Linked DNA regions of Homo sapiens: all the other regions are linked to region 1. Evidence: fine-mapped expression QTL. A gene starts in region 1. Each other region holds a variant in brackets. All regions are shown on one strand. Distances are from middle to middle.

Region 1 (8,186 bases):
TCACCCCTTGAACCCTTAAGTTACATTAATATCTAAGCCTGACTTGGCTTTATAGTTAACAACATTGAGTATGTCTGATTACAAAAGAACAAACAATTTGGGGGCAGATGTTCTCTAACTGGTGTGAGCAGAAGTTTCACTTGTAGGGATGGATGGGTTACATGTTCAAAATACAGATCTCTAAGCCTTCATCCGGAATTTTCTGATTCAGAAGATCTAGGGTAGTGATGCTAAGCCAAGGACGATTTTGCCTACCAGGGGACATTGGGCAGTATCTGGAGACAGTTTGCATTGTCACAACGGAAGCCTGGGATGTTCCTAAACATCCTACATTGAACAGGACAGCCCCTCCTAACAAAGAATTATCAGACCTTCAATGTCAATAGGGCCTGGGTTAGAAAATCTTGCTCTAGGGCAAGGACCAGGTACGTGCATCTTAACAAGGGCCTCAGGAGATTTTAATGCGGAAGCAGAAGCCTTACACGGTGTCTTTTTGATACAAGGGCTTCAGTATCAGAGTTCCCTTTTTGCCTACCCGTTTGTTATATGTAAGACTCAGCTTTGACTTACCTCTTCCCTTGAAGCCCCGCCTGGTAACCATCCTTCCTTTCGCCAAGTTCAGGGTAATCACTCCTCCTAAGAACACCTTCACCACATACTTATAACCAACTGATCTTTGGCAAAGCATATAAAAACATAAGTTGGGAAAAGGTCTATTCCAGTGTTCTCCAGCCTTTTTTTCACCAGGGACTGGTTTCATGGAAGACAATTTTTCCATGGACCAGGGCAGGGTGGATGGTTTTGGGATAAAACTGTTTGACCTCAGATCATTAGGCATTAGATTCTCATAAGGAGTGTGCAACCTAGATCCCTTGCATTCACAGTTTACAATAGAGTTAGAGCTCCCATGAGAGTCTAATGCCCCTGCTGAAGTGACAGAGCTCAAATGGTAATGCTTGCTTACCCCTACCTGCTCACCTCCTTCTGTGCCACCTAGTTCCTTACAGGCCATGGACAGGTGCTAGTCCATGGTTCAGGGGTTCGGGACCCCTGCCCTATTCAATAAATGGTGCTGGGAAAATTGGATAGCCACATGTAGAAGAATGAAACTATCCCTGTCTCTGACCATATATAAAAATTAACTCAAGATGGATTAAAGACTTTAAACATAAGACCTGACACCATAAATATTCTAGAAGAAAACCTAAGAAAAACTCTTCTGGACATTGGCTTAGGCAAAGAATTTCTGACTAAGCCCTCAAAAGCAAATGCAACAAAAATAAATAAATAAATGGAGCCTAATTAAACTAAAAAAATTCTACCCAGTAAAAGAAACAATCATCAGAGCAAACAGACAACCTACAGAATGGGTGAAAATATTTGCAAACTATGCATCTGACAAAGGACTAATATCCAGAATCTACAAGGAACTCAAACAAATCAGCAAGAAAAAAAAAAAAATAATCTCATTAAAAAGTGGACAAATGACGTGAATAGACATTTCTCAAAAGGAGACAGACAAATGGCCAACAAACATAATGAAAAAATGCTGAACATCAATAATCACAGGGTAAATGCAAATTAAAACTGCAGTGAGATAGCACCTTACCCTAGCCAGAATGGCCATTATTAAAAAGTCAAAAAACAACAGATATTGGTGTGGATGTGGGGAAAAGGGAACTTTTATACCCACTGCTGGTGTGAATGTAAATTAGTACAATCTCTATGGAGAACAGTATGGAGATTTCTCAAGGAATTAAAAGTAGATCTACCATTTGATCCAGCAACCCCACTACTGGGTATCTACCCAAAGGAAAAAAAGTCATTATGTCAAAAAGACACCTGCAGGCGTATATTCATTGCAGCACAATTGCAAAGATATGAAATCAACATAAGTGCCCATCAACTGATTATTGTATAAAGAAAATGTGGTATATATATCTATATATGTGTATTTGTGTATATATATGTGTGTTTGTGTGTATATACACACATATATATACACCGTGGAATACTACTCAGCCATAGTAAAGAACAAAATAATGTCTTTCACAGCAACTTGGATAGAGCTGGAGGCCGTTATTCTAGGTGAAGTAACTCAGGATCAAAAACCAAATACCACACGTTCTTGGTTATAAGTGGGAGCTAATGCATGGGTATGCAAAGGCATATGGAAAGATATCATGGACATTGGCAACTCAGAAGCGAGGAGTATGGGAAGGGGGTGAGGACTGAAAAACTACCTATTGGGTACGATGTACACTACTCGGGTGACGGGTGCACTGAAATCCCAGACTTCACCACTATGCAATTCATCCATGTAACCGAAAACCACTTTTACCCCTAAAGCTATTGAAATAAAAAAAATAATAAAGCAAAAAAAAACACCTCTAGTCCCAGCCTGCATCAAATGCCCTCAGTTGCTTTGCCCTCTCACTGGAAGGAGCACTCCTTGAGGGCATGGTCTAGGTTCACCTTGTTCACAGACTTGCCCCCAACACCTCAAAAGGTGCCTGGCCGATAGCAGAACTCAATAATCACATGTTTGTTTCAATCTCTCTGTGCTCAAATGCCATATCCTACATTGAATCTAGAGCCACCCACCCCCTTTTAGACACTATTACAGCACTCAGCTTAACGTCTTCATGGAGCGAATCACTCAAAGTATCCTGTTTATTTGCTTGCTTACTTTTCATTCATTCAACAAATATTTTACTGGGCACTTATTATATGTCTTGTGCTTTGCCAGCACTTGGGGATATAAGAGAACAAAGAGGCAAAAATCCTTCCTTCCATTGGAGCTTACATTCAAGAGGGGAACTTGTACAATCAACAGAATAGAAAACTGTCTATAACCTGTGTGACACTCACTGATCAGCTCACTGGGGAATAACAAAATGGAGAAATGGGGCAGGGAGTGTGTGTGTGTGTGTGTGTGTGTATTTTAGGTGAGGTAGACCTTTGGGAAAAGGGGACATTTAAGCAAAGATTGGATAGCTGGGGGGCACTTGTCTGCACTCCCCCATTAGAATATAAATACCAACATGGCCACCACCTTCCCTTTCTCTGTGGCCTCTGTGTCTCCAGAATAGGCACATAGTAGATGCTCAATAAACATTCTTCAAAGGAAACAAAAAGAGGAGTATATGATTAGACCTTAAAGTAGACAGAAGGGAGATTTTTGTTTTTGTGACCACCCATTGATTAGCGAGAAAGTGGGAGGGACAGGGGCACTAAATTGAAGGGGTCGTGGGGAGCACATTTTGGTGGGGGCAGGTTAAGACTTACAGGATGGAGATCCTCACTGGATAAGGTCCCCTCCCCCTTCCCAGCCCCGAGCAAACCTAAGTTCTCCCTCTCCTAAGATTGTGCATGGTCCCTGCTGGTCAGCCAACCTGGCCCCCCTGAATCTCCCTCCACAGCCTCCCAGCTTCAGAGTTCAGCCATCATCACACTGCCTCCTTTTCTCCCGCACCCCTTCCCTCCTCACCTCCTTTCCTCCCGCCCCCGCCCCTTCCGCCTCCCGGAGGGGTGTCCCCGCGCCCGGTGGGCACGCCCTCGCCCCGGCGGAGAGGGCGCACAGAGGGGCCTGGGCCGGCGCGCCGGGGCCCCCGCCCCCAGCCCCTCTCCCCTGCGGGACGCTGTCCCTTTAATAGGCTCCCGCTGCCTGGCGCTCTGCGGCTGGGGAGTAAATTTCTCCCTGTCATCAGGTCGCGGGGAGAGGAGGAGGAGGAGGAGTTTGTTAATGTTCAGTTTGTTCAGCGGGATCGATGTTTGCTGGCATCGCCTCGCCCTGTCTTGTGTGTGTGTGCGAGGGTGTGTGTGTGTGTTTGTGTGTGTGTGCATATGTGGGGGGTGTGAGTGTGTGTGTGCGAGGAAGCGGGGGTGCGTGCGCGTGTGAGTGCGTGTGTGAGTGTCTGTGTGTGTGTCTGTGTGTGTGTGTGAGTGAGTGAATTCCAGATTTTCTGTCTTTCCAAAACCCGCTCCTGTCCTCTCGCATATCACTCACAGACGGGGATCTGACAGCAGCCACAAACCTACAGTGAGTGATCGCTCTCCCCCCGGCACGAATCCGCCATAGAGATCGGCGAGGAGGAGGAGGAGGAGGAGGAAGAAAAGAAGGAGGAGGTGGAGGAGGAGGTGGAGGAGGAGGAGGAGGAGGGAAAGAGGAGAAGGAAGAAGAAGAAAAAGAAGAAACCCACTACCTTCCCAGGATTGCCTTTTTTTTTTCCTTATCTTTACGCGCGAGTGTGCCTGTGGCGCGTGTGCGCCCCTCGTCCCTTCCATCCGAACCCGGGCTTGGATGTTTAATAAAGAAATCAAGTGTCTCAACAGTCACCAAAAAAAAAAAAAACCGCAAAAACAAAACCAAAAAAATTCCAAAAGCAAAAACAAAAAAGAGAGAGGAAAAAAAATTCAAAATAAACAAACAAACAAACAAGGCAGAACCAACCTCTACTTCAAAGCAGCCGGCACAAGCCACCCGTGTCTGCCACCCAGAGAGGGGGGTCTCTGGCCCGTGGTGGAGGAGTTGCAGGGGGGATCGTCAGGGGGACAGAGGCCGAGTGACGTCCTAGGAGCCACCGGGCAAGAGGCGGAGGAGACCCAGAGAGGCCAGAGAGACAGCGGGCCCCAGCGCGCGGCTCGGGGCTGGGGCGCCAGAAGTGGGACTGGAGCGAAGTAGAGGATGCCGAGGAGAAAACAGCAGGCACCCAAGCGGGCGGCAGGTAAGAGAAACGGCTCCGCTTCGGGGCTGCCCTGTGCGCCGAGCTCCTCGCCCGCCCTCCTTGCCCCTGGGTGCCCGGGGGCACCACCCACTTAAGCTTTCGGGGGAGTTTGCGCCGGGTGCCCTTCTAATAACCCCGTCCTCTCTCGCCTTCTCTGGTCTCCCAAATCCTCCCCTTCCAAGCTCCGGTTGGGTTGGGGTGAGCTATCCCACCAAGCCTTTCCTCCTTAAACTTTCTTTCCTCCACCCTCTACCCCACCCCTAACTTTCTTCCAGTCTGTTTCTTGCCTCTCGGGCCAAAGTCGGATTGAGGATTTGGGGTGCGGAGTAGGGAGACAGCCCCTCCACCCCTGCATCCCTCTGCGTGGTCAGTGCCAGTGGCTTTTGGCCTCCAGGGATAGCGTCTCCTCTCACTGGGGCTTGGGGCGCTGAAGTGTGAGGCATACCTAACACTCGGGCTGCAGGCAGGCTTTGGGGCCAGCAATAGGAGTTTAGCGTTGATCACCAAGGTGGACAAAATGCCCCCAGGAAATGGATGACTCTTTGCATATATTTTCTAAAAGGATCCATATTTGGAAATGTAATTAACAATTTCCCTATTCTTTAAAAAAACCAAAAAGGGTTGTAGGGGGGAAATTCCCCATAGAAATTTAAACAGCTCTGGATTTTCTTTGCCTAGAGAGTTGCAAACTTTGTGAAATGATTCGTACTGTAAAAACTATCCCATCTGAATCCTTACTGCCCCCTAAAAAAGATAAGAACAGGTTAATGGATCAGTACAATAGACCTTCTAAAGTTTTTTTTTCTTTTGGGTTGCTTAATTGCTTTTTTAATAGTATGCTGGGGTTTTGTTTCTCGGAAATGTAATATGAAAGTTCATTTTTCTTCTGCCAGACCCACCCACTGAAAAATCAGCTTTCCACTTGATTGCTAGTTTTGATTTGACATTTGATTGATCACCTGTCATCTCGCTGCCTTTGATCTATTCATTCTTGATATATATCAATAAATCACTCACCATGGTAACTCAGAGTGCCAGTGACGCAAACCTTGCCCTCTATATTCAGAGCCAGACATGCACAATTATTATCTTGTTTGGCTTTTAATGTGGGCGTTTTTATTTCTTTGTGTCCTTTAGTTGAATCAGGGCTTTCGCAAAAAGCTTAAGTTTAGTTGTTTTTTCCTCTCTCTCTGTCTTTACCCTCTTGATTTAGGCAACATTAGGTAAGACTGGTCTTCTGCAGACCCACCTCCACATTTCATTCTGTTCCAACTCTAGCAAAACATAGGGAGAAGTTTGGTGGAACACTTTCATAAACTTTGCAAAGTCACCCTTAGAACAAATCCAAAGTTAGTTAGGAATCTGAGGAGAGTGGGCATCCCTTGTCTGAATGTGTTGAACCACCAAGCTCATCCTCCTTCCTCGCCTGAGTGTTTCAAAATATCCACAATTATCATTCCTTCTGAGCACAGAATTGCTTCCCTATTTGTAAGTTGGTTCAAGTGGCATGCAGAAATATTGATAAAGCGTGGATTCATATATTTTCTGATCGTTTCCCTAAAAGCAAAATAATTAAAATATTTTTAGTGAGGTACGTATTTGGAACTTGCCTCATCAGTGAGGTTTTCTTTTTTCAACTCTAGTTACTTCTTTGGAAAACAATGTCTCTTTCCTACCGTTGTCTCTTTCTGCATTTAACTCACTGATTTCCTAAAACTTAGGCTGCTTTGCAATCTGACAGCGTGTGGATGTGTTCAATGGCCTTTGAGACCCAGGAACAGTGAGCCTGCTGCATCTAGTTCTGGCAACATAAGTTTAAGTGTAGCTACATTATTAGAGATAACGTCCTTATTGTTGTCCCGAAAGAGAACCCTGGGCTACGGTCCAGCAAGAAGTGATACTGCCCTGAAAATTACTCTTTTTTTTTTTCTGGTTGTTCCGGTAAAGACTATCAACAACTAGGCAGTAATTTAAATTACCAGAATGACTGGACATGTCTCCTTTAGTAAGCTCATTACAAAAAGTGCATTGCTCAGAATTGCTCGACTTTGATTATAATTATCCTACGATCGATAAGGATCCAGGTGTACGTAACATAACACTGTATCACATTATTTAAATCAGGTCCTTTTCATTAAGCTGTGTCTGTTGGTGCTGGCTAGTTTATTGGTGTGTGTGGGTGTGTGGGGGTGTGTGTGTGTGTGTGTTAGAAACTTGTAACTATAGTTTCAGTTTTCTGGCCTATTATATTCCTACTGTCTTTGTATGTTTGTTTTGTATGATTCTTATTATTTTCACCAGAAGCGGAAACCCTTTTTAAGCTGAAAAAGGATGATTCATTTCGTACACAGTGAGGGCCCTCTTACCTTATTTATTTGCTCACATATTAATAGAGGAGACAGTTTTTCATGCAGTGTTTCTTCTGTTCATCTAAGGTCATCAATGCCCTACTCTATTTCAGCTGAAGTGGTTATTCACAAGTAAAGTTAGCCACTTTGGGGTTCTGTAGTCAGTTAACATCCAGGGAAGGGGAGAAGGTGGGTTCTAAGATTATGGCCATACTAACTTTTATCACTGCTTAAAATTAAACACAATGCACAACTGTAAGTAATTACACCCAAGGACTGATGTTGAAAGCTTGATTTCTAGCTTGATTAATGAATAATGGGAGATAGAAAAAGCCTGTGAGTGGATCCGAGCTGAGGCTCTCCCGGAGCGCTCTTTTTCCCAAGAACTGTTCCAGGCAATTTGATTCCTTTGTATTATTAGTTATAAGTTCCATGTTTCAAGGAATCAATTACAGAACTTTCTACTAAAGCAGGTATCTAAACAGAATAAACAAGATGATATTGTAAGTGATGAGGAATTTTAGTCTTTATTTGTTATGTTCCTCCCCCTTCAGGGGGAAGGGATGTGAGGGGACAATTCTCTTTAAGGAAACAGCTAAATCAGAGTATTTCCCTCTGAAATGTCATTCTTCCTGGCTTTCTTAAGCTATGCTATTCCACCATACTATTACTTAGGGCAAGAAAAAAAAAGTTGAGAAAGCAGCCTACAGTACCCCAGGGGTTTGTGTTGTGTGTGCATGCTTGCTTCCTTGGATGTATATTTCACTCACCATTAAAATACATCCACTATTACCTGAAAATATTGCAGGATTCAGTACCAGCATTTTCCCCTTCTATGCATTTCAAGGGAGATAGAGAAAATGGCAGGAAAGTAAAACAGAACGGTGTTTTGATTTGTTTGCATTTTGCAGGATGCAGAGTGGTTAAAAATTTAAAATTGTAGACTTAGAATCTAACTCTTGATTTTCTACAGCCTATCTCAGCCTCTGTGCGCGCACATAAATAATACGTATTTTATTTCACCATACTGAACTGCTTTTATATTAATGACAGCCAATTGCAATAGAACACACAATCTTTTGTGAGCACATCTTGTGAATATATCTTTTAT
Region 2 (8,186 bases), 620 kb before region 1:
TTCCTGGAACAGTAGATGACGCGTTTTGTACAGGGCAACAGAAACTGGGGTGTTTGGATGGGTTGATGAGATAGTGATTTATTTTGATGTGACTGCTAACACTGCTACTACTGTGAGTCTTGTTAATACAAAACTATTAATCCTGTTCTTGTTCCCTCTGTGCCCGTTGCTGCGTGCTGCCAATGGGGAAGATACAACATATAGGAAAAACCAGATTCTTCACTGCAAATACTGCTTTGCATGCTTTTCTTTCATTGCTTTGGGCTTCTGGGAGAAATCAGAAGAAAAGAAACAAGGCAGTGAATGGTGGAAATCATGGGGGAAAGATGGCATATTTGGGATCTGCAGATGGATATTGAAAATGCAAACTAGTTTGCTGATTTGTAGTTGTATTAGGGTGGGTGTCCAAACTGGTGGTGTTAGTAATGGAATTTGGAACTTCTCAATGGATATGATCCTGTGTGCAGGCATGTGGTCACCTGAATAGTACCACTCAAAACCCCCAAACCTAAAAAAAAAAAAAAAAAAAAAATCCCATTATTTGCATCTCCTACTCTGTTCTAGAAAGCTTAAAGTTTATTGTAAAGGTCTTTGCTTTGTGGAAAGATGCTTTTTGGTAAAGAACATGCTGTTTGTTGGAGCACTGCATTAGTTGTCTGTTGTTGCGTAACAAATCATTTCAAACCTTCATGGCTTAAAACAACAGTAAACATTTATTACCTCACAGTTTATGTGAGTCTAGGATTCAGAAGTGGCTTAGCTGGTAGTTCAGGTTTGAGGTCTCTCATGAGATTGCTGTGCAAGTGTCAACTGGGGTCACTGTCATCTGAAGGGTCGATTATGGTGGATTGGGGGATCCAGTTCCAAGAAGGCTCACTCTTCCAAGAAGGGGGCCAGCATGCTGGTGCTGGCTCTTGGCAGGAGGCCTCAGTTCTTCTCCACATGGGCCTTTTCAGAAGTCTGCCTGAGTATCTTCATGGCATGATGGATGGCTTCCTCCAGAGTGAGCTAAGAGACCATGGCATAAGCTAAAAAGTGTTTTATGAACTGGTCTCAGAAATCACACCACTGTCACCTCCACAGTTTTCTACACAGTTCAGTCCTATTTAGTGGGAGAGGGGTGTATACAAGAATATGATTACTGGGAGGCTAGAATCACCTGGGCCATCTTGGAGGCTGACTACCATAAGAACCAGCCATGCACCAGACCCTGCCTCTATGTGCTTTACCTCATTTAATCTTTAGAGGAATGGTGCCAATACAAGGTAGGATCTACTGCTATAAGAAATCAAAGGTGAATTTCACTAATTTGTCTAAGGTCACACAGCTAGTGAGTGGTGGAGCTGGGATTGTAATGTATACACCTGAGTTCCAGCCTATGGATTAATGCTGGCTTCCATATCTTCCTCAGAGAGACCTGGGTCCAAGTTTGAGCACTGCCCATTGCTTGCGTTTGGTCTTAGTAATACAACTTAATAATTCCATTTGTGTAGCTCAAATGCAATTAACCGTTTGGAATGCACACATGCAGGAGTGGGCACATCAAGGCATTCAGTAGATCAAAAAAATCTTTTCCCTTAAAATTTTCAAAATCTGAGGTACATATACAACAAGTAGTAAGAGATAAGTTTCACACAGTACATGGATGAAGTGCTTTTTTATTTTCAGAGTTATATATTTATTTTAATGTATATTTAAAAAAATGGATGAATTCCACTTGAAAAGTTACTTAACTGAAACTCAATTTTGGTGTTTGTAAGATAAGCATAAAATGCTAACCGCTTAGAGTTGTATGGATTAAAAAAGGTAATGTATATCAAGGGCCTAGCAATTGAAAGTTCATAGCAAGCACTCAATAATATTTACTACTATTAACTCGTGATAAATGTAAAGTGTTCCAGAAAATATGGAAGTGGTGTTCAGGGTTAAGAACATAGAGCCATAATCAGAAGCACTTTTTTCTGTGCTTCTATATTTTAAGAGAGAAACTCTTAGTGATTTGGATTCCATTTAAAGTTATGACACAGTGGTAGAGGAAGTAAGTAGGAAGTGAGATTTTCTTCTTAGTTATGAGAATGGCATCAGTGAGAATTAACTTTTACAGCCACAGTCTTGATAAGGTAAGATGGTTAAAAACAGATGCTTTTATATTTAGAAAACTGATTGGCTACACTGGGTATATAAATGTGCTTTGGAAAAATTTTCACTTCCTACTCCGAGGTCGCCTAATTGCCACAGATACAGATGTTCTGCTTCTTGTTCCTTTGGGTATGAACTCACACCACTCTGGTTTACCTTAACTAGAGGGACTTACTCTCCCACAATTTAATTTCCAAGCTCTAATGCAAAACAGGCTTATTTGCTTTGACAGGCAACTACAGGATAAACAGAAAGGGGCAAATTTATATAGTCAGCTAGCACTCTGCCATTATGAGTAATATGGCTTAACAAGAAAGGAAATGAAGAAATAAAAAAAGATCCCAGACACCATGAGATTTCCCCTAAAGAACTTATTTCCAATGAACCCTAGAAAATAGAACCAGGACAGGCTCTCAGAAGAACAGGAGAAACAAATATTGATTGATTTATTCATAATTTGTGTCCCATCTTCTGCAAAAATCTGATGTGGTTTAGAAAAAAGAAATGTCATAGAATCTTTTTTTTTGCAAGATATTATTGCCAGAGGCATTCAAATAACTTTGGAATAGATGGTCAAATTCCAGGATGTCAAGCCAGTGGTATCATTTCCTCTGAACTTGAAAATTTTTGCTTAGAATACAATCTTACTGATGAAAACAATCAGTGCTGAAAGAGGATAATGTTATCTAAAATGTACTATGTTTTTCCTTTTATATAATATTGGAATGAATGCATGTTTTTGAAAAATTAAAAAAAATTAAAAGTAAAATGTAGAAATAAGAAGTCATCCTTTATTACTATTAACACTGTTAATAGTTTTTTGTTTGTTCATTTTTTAATTTTTTTGAGACAAGGTCTTGCTCTGTCACCCAGGCTGGAGTGCAGTAGTGCGATGATGGCTCACTGCAGACTTGACCTTCTGGGCTCAAACAATCCTCCTGCCTCAGCCTCTCAAGTAGCTGAGACTACAGGCGTGCAACACCATACCTGGCTAATTTTTATATTTTTTGTAGAGATGAGTTTCACCATGTTACCCAGGCTGGTCTTGAACTCCGGGGCTCTAGTGATCCATCTGCCTTGGCCTCCCAAAGTGCTGGGATTACAGGCGTGAGCCACCACGTTATTAATAGCTTTGAATATAGAGTAAGATTCATTATTTCTGGACAACTCTGTGCCCATATCCCCTTTCTAAAAATGCCACAGTTTCCTTTTGGGGAAGTGTTCTCCCCCTAATTTAACCTTTATATTAGTAGCTGAGGTCATCCCGAAACTCCTCAGACTGTGCATCACAGGTGAAGTTGGAATGGACATTGGAGATGCCTCCATGTTGTGCAAGACACCCTGGGATGAGTTTACATATTACTATTAACATCATAGAGCAAATGCTTTTACCTGATGTATTTCCTTGATATGAGGCTGTAGGCCAGAGTCAGCATGAGAGACCCTGAACGCATGGTGTGAAGTTGTGCAGAGAAACAAAGGAAAGGAGAGTTGAGAGGCTGTGGAGGGCAGACTGCCAGCCATTGTTAGCCTGACGACCAGTCCTGTGTGGGGGAATGAGCTTGAACTCCTGTTGGGTTAAACTGGCTCTTACTCCAGAGAGGAAATCTGTTGTTGCTGCCTGGCCAGCATCTGTTTTCCCTTCTTCTGATATCAGCAGCTCGGCTTTCCTCTGGGAACCCCTTTTTCCCCACTTTCTGTCTGTGTCTAAATGATGGGGCTGACCTCCTGTGCCTGACTCCAGGGATGGGTGCATAATCCAGGTCTAGCCAATTAGTCAGTTCTACCCTCTTGGCCACAGGGGTTACTTCAGAAACAGACACATGACGTCCCTCAACCCAGTAACACTCAATTCTATTACGGATTTTGGAATTACCCAGCCAAGAGTGCTCTTTTTAATTGTGCTGGGTTCGTTTGATAGCTTTGAAAATATAAATGCTCACGTTCAGTGCTAACTTAGAGAATGCAGCCAAGACCAGGGATCACCAGCAGAGCTGCTTGACGGTGTTGTTTGAGCACCAGCAGCGCCTGAAAGTTGTAACCCTTAAACTTGATGACATGAGTCAGGACATTTCCTTTTTTGTTGTTTTTATTTTCTGCTAAGACATTTTGAGTTGTGTTTCTATTATATTCAACCAGAAGAGC[G/C]TGGCTAATAGACTGCATTCCCTGTAATTGCAGAACCCAGCTCCCTCCCACAGTCAACCGGTGCATAGCCCTCCATGTTCCCTGGTTGGGTGTTTTTCATCTGCTCATGAACAGATGTGGTTGTCAGTCTCTTGGCCATTTTGTCCTCCTTCCCCTGCCCTGGTTTCATCACTGCTTTTCTTGGGGACCACCACCTCTCACTGGGCCCTGTTTTGCATGCACTTCCATCCTGAAATGCTGGTGATTTGTTAATACTCAACTACAAATTGGGAGAGTAAGCCACTCCATACCCCTCTTTCCTGTATGTCTCTGTTGGTACCAGTCTATTTTGCTTGTGATCAAATCTAAATGAGTTCTTAGCCAAACAGCTCTTTTTTTTTTTCCTTATAGCTTTCTCTTGACTCCAGACATGAGCGTGTAGGGGTTTGACTTTGGAGCAACTGGGAATGTCAGTATCATTATGTATTTGGAATTTCCCCTGCCCTCACTAACCAAGCTACGCTTAGAATGGCAAGCTTTTCTCCTTAAGATCTTGACTTCTGTCCAAGGATATTCCTTACTTCACCAGGCCTCTGCTGGCCATACCCACATAGTGGACATCTTGCAAAGCTGGCAGTGAACAGAGGGGAAGCTCAGTCTGGATCCTATTTCTGAGAGACCGGAATTCAGGATTTGACTTTTTCTCTTGTCGTTAGACCATGTATATCCACTTTTGCTTTTATAAGTTTTCCAGAGGCAAACAAATATAACAATCCAAAATGCCTCTTATGAGGAAATTAGTTACTTTTAGTAAAACAGTTTTTGTTAAAGCAGAGCTAAAGGAGCATCTATTGCCCAGTGTTTAAGTAGCAGACACTGTTGGCTACTGATTGAAAATCCATTTTCCCGGTTTATTCCTTTCTCCCTTGATGCCAGAGCCCACTTTCTACAATAAGGGTGAGCTCCCTGGACATTTACTTTTCAGCCTCCCTTGTAAATAGGGCAAAGCCATGTGACTTATTTCTGCTAAGGGAACCTGAGGGGATGTTTGTTTGGGGGCAGCTGCTGTTGCTTCTGCTGTTGCATTAGCTGCTGCTTCTCCTCCCTTGGCCCTTTCCCTTCACTCTCTCCTCTTCCTCTTGCTTTTTAAGCAGCTTTATTGAGATATAATTAACACAGTATAAACCACACATATTTAAGGTGTACAATTTGACAAATTTTGACATATGTACACACCTGGGAAACAATCGCTACCGTTGAAGTAATGAACAAATCCATCAACCCCAAAAGTTTCCTCTCTGCCCCTTTGTAACCCACTCCTTCTTTCTCTCCCTGCCCTTCTCAAGACCAGGCAAATACTGATCTGCTTGATGTTAGGATACATTCATTTATTTTTTTCCAGCAGTTTTTTTTTTTTTTTTTGAGACAGGGTCTCACTCTGCCACCCAGGCTGGAGTGCAGTGGCAATCTCGGCTCACTGCAAGCTCTGCCTCCCGGGTTCAAGCAATTCTCCTTCCTCAGCCTCCCAAGTAGCTGGGATTACAGGCATGCACCCCCACAACTGGCTAATATCTGTATTTTTAGTAGAGACAGGTTTTCACCATGTTGGCCAGGCTGGTCTCGAACTTCTGACCTCAAGTAATCTGCCTGTCTCAGCCTCCTAGTGTAGTAGTTTTAACAAATGAATTCATATAGTATGTACTATGTACTGGTTTTTTTTGCTCTGACTTTTTTCTCTAGTCATAATTATTTTGAGGTTTATCCACATTGTTACATCTCAGTAGTTCATTCCTTTTTCTTGTTTAGTGGCACTCCATGGTATGAATATATTACAATTTGTTCATCCATTCTCCTGTTGATGGACATGTGGGTTGTTTTGAGTTTTGGGCGATCACAAATGAAGCCATTATGAGCATTCATGTACAAGTCGTTGCATGAACATGTGCTTTCATTTCTTTTGGGTGAATGCTGAGGAGTAGAATAGCTGGATCACATAGTAGATTTATGTCTAATTTTTAAAGAAACTGCTGTTTTCCAAAGTGGTTGTGCAAGTTTACATTTTCAACAGCATTGTATGAGATTACCAGTTGCTCCACATCCTCACCAACACTTGGTATGTCAGTCTTTTTACTTCTAGTGATTCTGTCAGAACGTGTGTATTGGTATCTCACTGTGATTTTCATTTGAATTTTCTTGATGACTAATGACACTGAACATCTTTTCATGTGCTTACTTGCTATCCATATATTTTTTCGTGAAGTGTTTGTTCAAATCTTTTTGGGTTAATTTGCTTTTTTATTATTGAGTTTTGAGAGTTCTCTACATCTTCTGAATACAAGACCTTTAGCAGATCCATGATTTGCCAATACTTTCTCCCAGTCTGTGGCATATCTTTCCATGCTTTTAACATCATCTTTCTAAGAGCAGACATTCTACATTTTGGTGAATATAGCCACTCCAGGTTTCTTTTGATTAGCATTAGCACTGTATATGTTTACTTATCTTTTTTTTTTAACCTATTTGTGTCTTTGTATTTACAGTGGGTGTCTTGTAGGCAGAATTAAGATGGTCTTTTTTAAATGAAATCTTTCAATCTTTGTCTTAAACCATTTACATTTAATGTGAATATTGACATGATCATGTTTAAATTTATTATTTTGTGACTTGATTTCTATTTGCTCCATTTATTCTTTGTTGCATTTATTGTCTTTTTTAGATTAGTTAAAATTTTTTATGGTTCTATTTTATCTCCTTCATTAGCTTATTAGCTATAACTCTTTTGCTATTTTACTGATTACTTTGGGTACATAGTATAGATCTTTAACTTATCACAGTCTTCCTTCAAGTTATATTACACTACTTCATATACAGTATAAGAACCTGATAATTGTAAACTTCCATTTCTCCCCTTTTGAGAGAAATAATTTTTGTCATACATTTGACTTTTACGCATATTATAAACCCCACACTACATTGTTATTGTTTTTGTCATTCAGTAATTTATCTTTTGAAGAAATTAAATAATAAGAAAAATTTATTATATGTTTTCCAATAGTTACCATTTCTAGCGCTTTGCATTCTTCTGTGTAGATTCCAGTTTTCATCTGGTATCATTTTCCCTGGCCTGAAAAAATCCTTTAACATTTTTCTTAGTGTGGTTCTGCTGATTATAAAATCTTAAGTGTTAATTTTGCCTTCATTTTTGAAATGTATTTTCACTGGGTATAAAATTCTAGGTTGACAAACCTTTTTTTCTCATTTCTTTAAAGGTGCTGTTTTACTGTCTTCTTACTTGCACTGTTTTTGATAAGAAATTACGACTATTCTTATTTTTATATACACACATTGTGTATTTTTATATTTACATACATACATATATAAAATATACATACACAATTTATATACATTGTGTATATTTTATATATACACACATTGTGTAATTTTATATTATCTTATTTTTATATACACACATTGTGTGTATATACACTGTGTAAACATATCTTTTTTCTATTCTACATTTAAGATATTATCTTTACATTGGTTTTAAGTAATTTGATTATGATATGCTTTGGTCTCATTTTCTTCATGTTTCTGATGCTTGGGGTTCATTGAGCTTCTTGGATGTGTGTGTTTATAATTTTCATAAAATTTGGAAAATTATCTGCCATTCTTTTTTTAAATATTATAATTTTTTTTTACCTTTACTGCCTTTGCTTTTAGGGACTCCAATTGCATATCTATTTAGGACTCTTGAAGTTTCCCACAGCTTACTGATGTTCTGTTTATTTTTAAAGGAATATTTAGCATAGTTAATATTCCTGTTACTTTATATTCACTAATGTTTTCTTATGCAATGTCTAATCTGCCAATAATCCTATTCAGTGTATTTTTCATGTCAGGTATTGTGTTTATCTTTTATATTA
Region 3 (8,186 bases), 310 kb after region 1:
ACTACTTATAGCCTATTGTTGACCAGAAGCCTTACCAACAACATAAAGTCAATTAACACATATTTTGTATGTTATATGCGTTATATACAATGTTCTTACAATAAAGTAAGCTAGAGAAAAGAAAACGTTGTCAGGAAAATCATAAGAAAGAGAAAACATATTAACTATTAAGTGAAAGTGGATCATCATAAAGGTCTTCATCCTTGTCATCTTCACATTGAGTAGGCTGAGAAGAAGAAGTAAGTAGAGGGGTTGGTTTGCTTTCTCAGAGGTGGCAGAGGCAGAAGAAAATCCATGTATAAGTGACCCACACAGTTCAAGCTCATGTTGTTCAAGGGACAGCTGTATTCAATCTTCCATTGTAGCATAAAAGCAATGATAGATTATATCCCAGTGAATGGTAGTGACTATGATCCAATACAACTTTATCAAAGGACACTGAAATTTGAATTTCTTGTCATTTTTGTGTGTCATAAAACATCATTCTTCTTCTGATTTTTCAACCATTTAAAAATATAAAAACCACTCTTACTTTGTTGGCCCTATGAAAGCAGATGGCAGGCTGGATCAGGCCCACAGGCAACAGTTCACCAACCCCTGATCCAAAGCAATCCAGCTCTCTCACTTTTCTCTTTCTCGTCACCCTGTTTTATTTCCTTCATAAAATTACAACTATCTGATATCATGTTGTTTATGTATTTTCTCATATCTAGCACTGTGCTAGGCTCCAAGGATACAGCAATGAACAAAATGACATTTTCCTTTCCTTCACAGATCTTACATTCTTGTTGGAGGAAATAGACACAAAATTAAAAAATAAATAAGGCCATTTAGGATCCCATGAAGGGAATAGAGCATTATGGGCCTGGGTAGCAGTGGTGCTAATTTACTTTGGGTGCTCCAGGAAGACTCCTTTGAGGGGCAGCTTCTGACATATGAAGGACTGAGGGAGCCACAAATGAGAAGAAGAGGATTTCAGACAGGGACAGCAAGTGCAAAGGCCCTGAGGCAAGTAGGAGCTGGGCTCGTTGTGGGGAACTGAAAGAAAGCCAGTGTCCCTGGAATGCTGTGAGCTCAAGGTGACAGACTCAATTGTGCAGGCCATGGTAATGAGTTCAGATTACTCTGAATACATTGAGAGGCTTTAAATAGGGAAAGAGCATGACCCAATGGGCATTTTTGAAGATGACTCTGCTCCTGTGTGCAGGAATGGATTGCACACAGGACATGTATGTGTGTGTGAATGTACCTTTCCTTCCTTATCAGGAAGCTCCTTGAAGACCTCAGGCATATGAAGGCCTCAACAAAAACTTTATAAACTTAATGCATCAATTAAAACCATTAACACAGCCACATAACTTTTTCTTAACCTCCTCACTAGCAATCCTTTTTATAGCCTGGTTCCCAAAGCAGGTCAATTTATATCATAAAACTCAAAAATTACAGCTTATAGCATAAAATGACCTCCCATGATATAATGTGGCAAAATAAGCGAATTAATACCAGAGGTAGTAAATGTCTGGGCACTAATGTGACTTGAGTATGAAATATGTTTCCATCGCATTAGGAGTAAGGATCCAAAATGAGAGGGGGATCGGTGACCTGGCACCACCTACATGGAGCTAGCTATGCTAAGTCCTGGTTTAGAAGATCCACTTGGTATGAATGCAACCACTTAGGTATTTTTGATTCTTCTCATCATTTAGTCAACAAGTCGTTTTTTTGTTTGTTTGTTTGTTTGTTTTTTGTTGTTGTTGTTGTTGTGTGTGGGGGTTTTTTTGTGTGTTTTTTTGAGATGGAGTCTAGCTGTCGTCCAGGCTGGAGTACAGTGGCGCGATCTCAGCTCACTGCAACCTCCGCCTCCTGGGTTCAAGCGATTCTCCTGTCTCAACCTCCCGAGTAGCTGGGACTAGAGGTGCGTGCCACGACACCCAGCTAATTTTTTCTATTTTTAGTAAAGATAGGGTTTCCCTGTGTTAACCAGGGTGGTCTCGATCTCCTGACCTCGTGATCCGCCCACTCATCCTCCCAAAATGCTGGGATTACAGGCGTGAGCCACCACGCCCGGCCAGTCAGCAAGTATTCCTAAAAGTAAACTGTATTTAGATACTATGCCAGGCTTGTATCCAGAAATGAGCAAGGCAAAGAAAGCCTCTGGCCTCATGCAGTTTATGTGCTGTTGCTGTCATGGAGCAAACAATTTAATCAAAGAGAATAATTTCAGTGCTGTTAGTTGTAAGAATGCTGAGCCAAAAAATGGGGAAATGGAAGGCTACTTTAGATGGGTGGTCAGAAAAGTCTTTTCTGAGAAACTGACATTTTTGCTGAGACCTAAATAATGAGAAGCAGCCAGGCATCCACTGAGTCAAGGAATGAGGGCTCCAGGCAGAAGGAACAGCACATGCAAAGTTCTTGAGGTCAAAAAAAGCTTGGTGTATTTAAAGCATTATCTAGTACAGAGGTTTGTAAACCTCTTTTGTCAAAAGGCCAGATAGTAAATGTCTGAGGCTTTGTAGGCCATACAGTGTCTACTACAAATCTTCAACTCTGCCATTGTATCACAAAAGCAGCCATAGGTGATATGTAAATGATTAAGCATGGCTGAGTTCCAATAAAACTTTATTTATGAAAATAAGTGGAGGGCCAGATTTGGCCCACAGGCTAGAGTTTACCAGCCTATGGTCTAGTAGGATAGTGTCTCATGTGGGGGTCCTAGAAGCAGATCCTGACATCAGGGTTCCTGGGCTATTAAACCTATTGAATCCCTGGTTTCTCAGGAATGTGCTCCCAGGAAGAACCAGTAAGGGAGTAGGGAAGCAGGACAGGGAAGGAAAGAAAGCCAAGCAAGTCCTAGCCTCTGCCTGATCCCATGGGGAGCCTCAGAGTTCCACCTGTCTGTAAGCAAGGGCTGGGCTACCTTGGCTAATGACTGATTGACTCCACATCAATCAGTCATTGGCTCAAGGATAGCCAGGGGTACACACTTGAAGGCAGCAAGGGCACTCTGTGTGTACTGGCAGAGCAGCTTCAGCGACCAGGGGACATCCCCAGAAGAGAGCTGCAGGTGCACCTATTAGAAAGTAAAACACTCAGAAGCCAGACGTGGGCAC[A/G]AGGATATAGTATCCAAAATCCAAAGGCATCCCTACTGTGTCCTCTACAGATGCATTTCCCTGTGGCCAGGTTCTTATCTAGCTCTCACTTGCATAGAAAAATGTCTCAGTTTCCCCAAAGTTACCTTTGTGAATAAAGGTAGACTCTCCACCTACCTCTCAGAGCTGATGTTAAAATATATCAAGTTCTTTTGTCCAAAAAAAGGATCAAAAGAAGAGGTGACTTTCACCTGATTGTCACTGATAAAATAATTAATTTACATAGCAATTCAAAATAGTGCAAATATACAGGAATCACGTTTTTGAAAGTGATCAGAGAAGCCTGGCCTCTGGCTTAGCCTTTCATATGCAGATCAGTGAGGGAGAGGGAACTGGCATTGACTGAGTACCTGCTGTGTGCATTGTGTCAAGAGCTTTTCTATCTTTTTTCTGATTTAACCCTTACCACACGCTTTAAGTAGCGATATTACCCCCATTTTATGGATGGGGAAACCGAGGTTCAGGTATAAGCCCCTCAAGGGCAGAACAGGGGCTGTAAAATTTAAAATCCTTAACTCATATTCACCGAATGGACCTCAGAAAGGTCTGTAACATACTGAGGGTGACCATGACTGACAGGTGACAGAGTTAGGATTTAAGGCCGGTTCTGACACTGAAGTCTGTGCATTTTTCTAGTGGCACCTTTCAGACTGGTGATTCGAAGGAATAAATACAAAATGGCTAGCCAGTGGCGTCATGCAGTGCTCTTTGTATAAGGAGGTGGCATTCCTGTGCCAAGCATGTGATTTGTGTCAATTGCTTGCTGTCGTGAGGAGGCCTTGCCGAGACTCCTTCACACATTCTCACTGTGCCACTCCCAGATCAGAACAGACACATGCAGTCCTCTTATCCTGTTCCCTGGACAAATCTTTCCCAAGACGGAACCTGGGACATGCCTAATAATGATCTGACTTGCTGGTTCAATCAACAAATATTTATTCAGCATTTATTATGTACCAGGCACCATCAAAGCCCTGAAGACACAAACTTTTATGACAATCATAATTAACATGGAGTTAGCGCCCTACCAGTGTTATCTCATTATTCCCTTCCCACATCCTCCAAAGTAGGATCATGGGTCCCCATGTTGTAGAAGAAAAAGCTAAGCCTTAAAGAGGTTAAGTAAGTGGCCCATTATCATACAGTTAGGAAGCAGCAGAACAAGAATTCAAATGCAAATTTGCCAAACTTCATTATCACTGCCAGAACTCATGCCCTGTCCTGATTCTTGCAAAAAATCAGGGCTAATAGTTATTGAATGCTTACTATGTCCGAGGCACTCTTTAAAACTCTTTACATACATCATGCCATTTTATCTTTCCTGCCATCACACCAGATAGGTCCCTGTCATCACCCCTATTTTACAGATGAAGTACCTAAAGTCAACAGAAATTAAGCGCCTTGACCATCACCACACAGCTTTCAGCTGGTGGAGCTTGGATTTAAACCCCAGCTCTGCTGGACTTTAGGGCTTGCTGGGAAGCAGAGTTATAATTTTTTAATTACCAAAAAAAGGAAAAAATAAAATAGTAAGAAGAATAAACATATACTGAAAGCTTACTTATGTGCCAAACACTGGGTTTAGTACTTCTTTGTTTTAGCTTATTCAAGCTTCCGTGCTCTGGGAAGTAGGTGATTTTCTTATTCCTATTTTACAGTTGAAGGAATGGAGGTATAGCAAAGTGAGGTCATCCTACCCAGTCACACAAATGTTTTGTGATGAGGGCAAAATTCAATTACAGATTGGTCTGACTCTCCAAGATAAACAGATTAACCCTATTTTTATCCAGGGAAGATTTTCCTGCATGCTTGGTCTGTGACCTGGGTTTATGAAGAATGAATAGAAACCTGTGCTCGCCTGCTCCATCCAATTGACTGCAATATGCAAAAGAGGCTTGAATGTAGAGCTTCGAGGAGTTTGGGGTGAAAGAAGGTGGCAGAAGGAAAGTAAAAACGGGTACAGTAATTCCCAGGGCTCTTTGTCAAGTTCCTGACCAAATGCCCGGCAGGGGCTTTCTTCCTCTTCTTCCACTTCTTCCTTCATTCATAAGAGTTTTACCGCCTCGAACAACGTGAAATGTGTAGCTTGGGCTTGTTGAGAATGGAGTGTGTCTGTTAAGTGTTGCTTCTTGAATGCTGGACCGCCACCTCCATCTTAGTTACGCACGCCCATCTTTTTCAATCTAATGAACTCCAACCATCAGTGCAACTTAAGTTCGGCTGTCTGTTCGTGCATAGTTAATATTAAAAATGTACTAACAGTGTGGCTGAGAAATCAAATTATGCACATAAATATGCTGGCATAGCACAGGCGGCGGCAGAAGCTGAAGTTAGCAACACTGATGCCAGTTCACATTTGCAAATCTCCCGTCAATCTGTCATTAAACATGTTATCAAATGATGATAAGTGTATGCTTCTTGCTTGCATTGGTGAGCCGATTCCCGATGTTGATGCACATTAATGGGATAATACGCATTAACATAGTTGTGCTTGGATGAACACAAAACATTTTTTATCTGTCTCCGTTTGTTTCCCCCTGTGGCCCCGAAGTAAGTGTTTTGTGTTATCAAATTGCCAAAAACACGGGAAAACATATTACTTTTAATTAGCAAATCTTGTTGGGATTTTCCCCCCTACACGCCCGTCCCCCCCACCCCCATTGTGTGATGGCAATAAGAGAGAGAAAGAGAGAGGAGAGAGAAATAGAGAGAGGAAGAGAGAGAGGAACTCTACTGTCTTCTTTCAGTAAAACGATTAATGTCAGCAACTCAGAAGCTGGCAATTATGTTCTGTCTTAATGCACTGGCCTTTCATCTGGGGCCCTTACTCTTGACAGGCCTGATCGTTTCAGTTCAGTGATATGAAAGGCAGCAGAGGAAATGATCGTAGACATCCCGGGTCTGTCACGAGGGCCGGCGCTGCAATTCGGATCCAGCTCCACGTTCTGAAGCTGTTCAGCAGAGTCAGAAGCACAGGAGACAGATGGTGGCCCCAGGCATTGCCCAGACTTTGGGTGTCACTGTGCTGAGTGGGGAAGTTGTAGCTACCACCATTTCCCAAACTTAAGAACTGGGAAAATGTGCAAGCCCCCACAAAGTGAGAAACACGGTATTAAAAAGTTAAATGTCCTTTTGCGTTGATCACAGAGCACCAGCTCAACGCAAGGATAAACGTGAATGCGGGCAGTGATTTCATACAGCAGTGTTTGGATAGGAGTCTCTTCTCCTGAGGATCCAGGAGAGGATTGGATTCATTTTTCACCAAAATGAAAATAAAATTTAGATATTCTTGATTGAAAATTCAGAACTTTATGAAATTTTTTTGCAGATGTTGGGTCAGTACAATATCTGAGAAATGGGGCCAGGTGCGGTGGCTCACGCTTGTATCCCAGCATTCTGGGAGGACAAGGCAGGCAGATCACTTGAGGTCAGGAGTTCAACACCAGCCTGGCCAACATGGTGAAACCCCATCTCTACTAAAAAGACAGAAATTAGCTGGGCATGGTGGTGCCTGCCTATAATTCCAGCTACTTGGGAGGCTGAGGCAGGAGAATTGCTTGAACCCAGGAGGTGGAGGTTGCAGTGAGCCAAGATGGTGCCACTGCATTTCAGCCTGGGGCCGCAGAGCAAGACTCCGTCTCCATCTCAAGAGAAAAAAAAAAGAAAGAAAGAAAGAAAAAGAAATGGTAGTGGTGCCCAGCTTCCTTTGTGAAGTGATGTTCTGAGCCATTAGGGTTATATATGTTTCCACAAAGGATCTGTCAGGACATCTTTGAGATTGGATTGATTCATTCATTCAACACAGATGGATTGAATATCTACTATATGCCAGAATTACTGTAGCATCAGGGAGTAGGACAGAAATGATTCCTACCCTCATGAAGCTTTGGGTATTTGGGGAAGGGAAAACAGAGGTTTTTTTTTAAATTGCTACATAATAATCAATTTATTTTTATTATGAAAAGTGAAGGTAGAGGTATATGGAGTGCAGTTGTTGTAGCATTTACTTCTCGAGCTCAGTGGAAAATGTTTTCTGCCATTAATAATGCCAAAAGGTTATGTGTTTGGCCTTCCTGGATTCTTGTTTACATGTGTTTTAAAATTAACATTGACTTCTTGCCATTTGTGTTTGTTCCTAAGCGGAGTGAGCGGCTTATTAATGATTAGAATTATTGTTGCTATTATGAATGCACTAATTAAAAGAAAATTCTGTCATGAGGCTTTGTGAGGCAACACAAGACTTTACAGTTAGAGACGTCAGGTCTGGAAGTGTGGAGACAAAAGTGTGAAATAAGAAAACAGAGTTCAGGATGAGGAAAAGAGTTCTCAAGATGTCTACAGTCCTTCATTAGAGATTCTTTTTCAGGGCATTTTCCCTAGTAAGGGTATGATGAAAATCCAGTTGTTTTTTGATTGGAGGTGTCACCTTTATTGTTTTTCTTTTTTTTTGGTCTTAGGGCAGAAATAGCCGGCTTCTCTCCAACTTGAATTCTAAGAACATTTTATCTTCTACAGCTTTATTCAAATATGTAAAAACAGGCACAGTAGCTCACACCTGTAATCCCAGCACTTTGGGTGACTAAAGTAGGAACATCAACGGCTTGAGCCCAGGAGTTTGAGACCAGCCTGAACAACACAGTGAGGTCCTTTCTCTACAAAAATAATTTATTTTTACTTAGTCAGGTAGGGTAGTGTGCACCTGTAGTCCCAGCTACTTGGGAGGATCACTTAATCCCAGGAGTTCAAGGCTGCAGTGAGCTATGATTGTACCAATATACTTCAGCATGGGTAACAGAGCAAGACCCTGTCTCAAAAATACACACACACACACACACACACACACACACACACACACACGTAACACTTCTGAATTGATGACCAGATGCCAGACCAAGGATGCCAGACCAGGACACAGTTCCTCCCCGAGGTTCATCATCTAGGGGACAAGGAAGTGAAGCGAATGCACAATCGTAGTGCCTGGACACATTGCTGTGATGGGAAAGATACAGGTGCACAAAAGAGGGGCACCCAGTCTTG

What was found. PIP is the estimated chance that this variant, and not a neighbour inherited with it, causes the effect. A credible set is the group of variants that fine-mapping cannot tell apart.
Region 2: its variant is the best candidate, but not a certain one, in a credible set for the expression of TSHZ2 in whole blood (INTERVAL, PIP 0.79).
Region 3: its variant is the best candidate, but not a certain one, in a credible set for the expression of TSHZ2 in whole blood (TOPMed, PIP 0.86).

The regions. Positions count from the first base shown.
Region 1 is chr20:52,968,607-52,976,792 of GRCh38, forward strand. It overlaps TSHZ2 (teashirt zinc finger homeobox 2), which reads left to right and starts at 3,752. Exons shown (of 3, transcript NM_173485.6): 1 at 3,752-4,727. The coding sequence starts at 4,688.
Region 2 is chr20:52,346,297-52,354,482 of GRCh38, forward strand. All of the region lies in intron 4 of LOC105372666 (a long non-coding RNA gene), which reads left to right. Among named protein-coding and RNA genes, the nearest start is that of ZFP64, 160 kb to the left of the region's middle. The variant G/C (reference allele first, on the strand shown) is at 4,285.
Region 3 is chr20:53,278,921-53,287,106 of GRCh38, forward strand. The region is part of intron 2 of TSHZ2 (teashirt zinc finger homeobox 2); the gene reads left to right. Among named protein-coding and RNA genes, the nearest start is that of TSHZ2-AS1, 220 kb to the right of the region's middle. RefSeq lists enhancers at 3,197-3,752, 4,015-4,621. The variant A/G (reference allele first, on the strand shown) is at 3,111.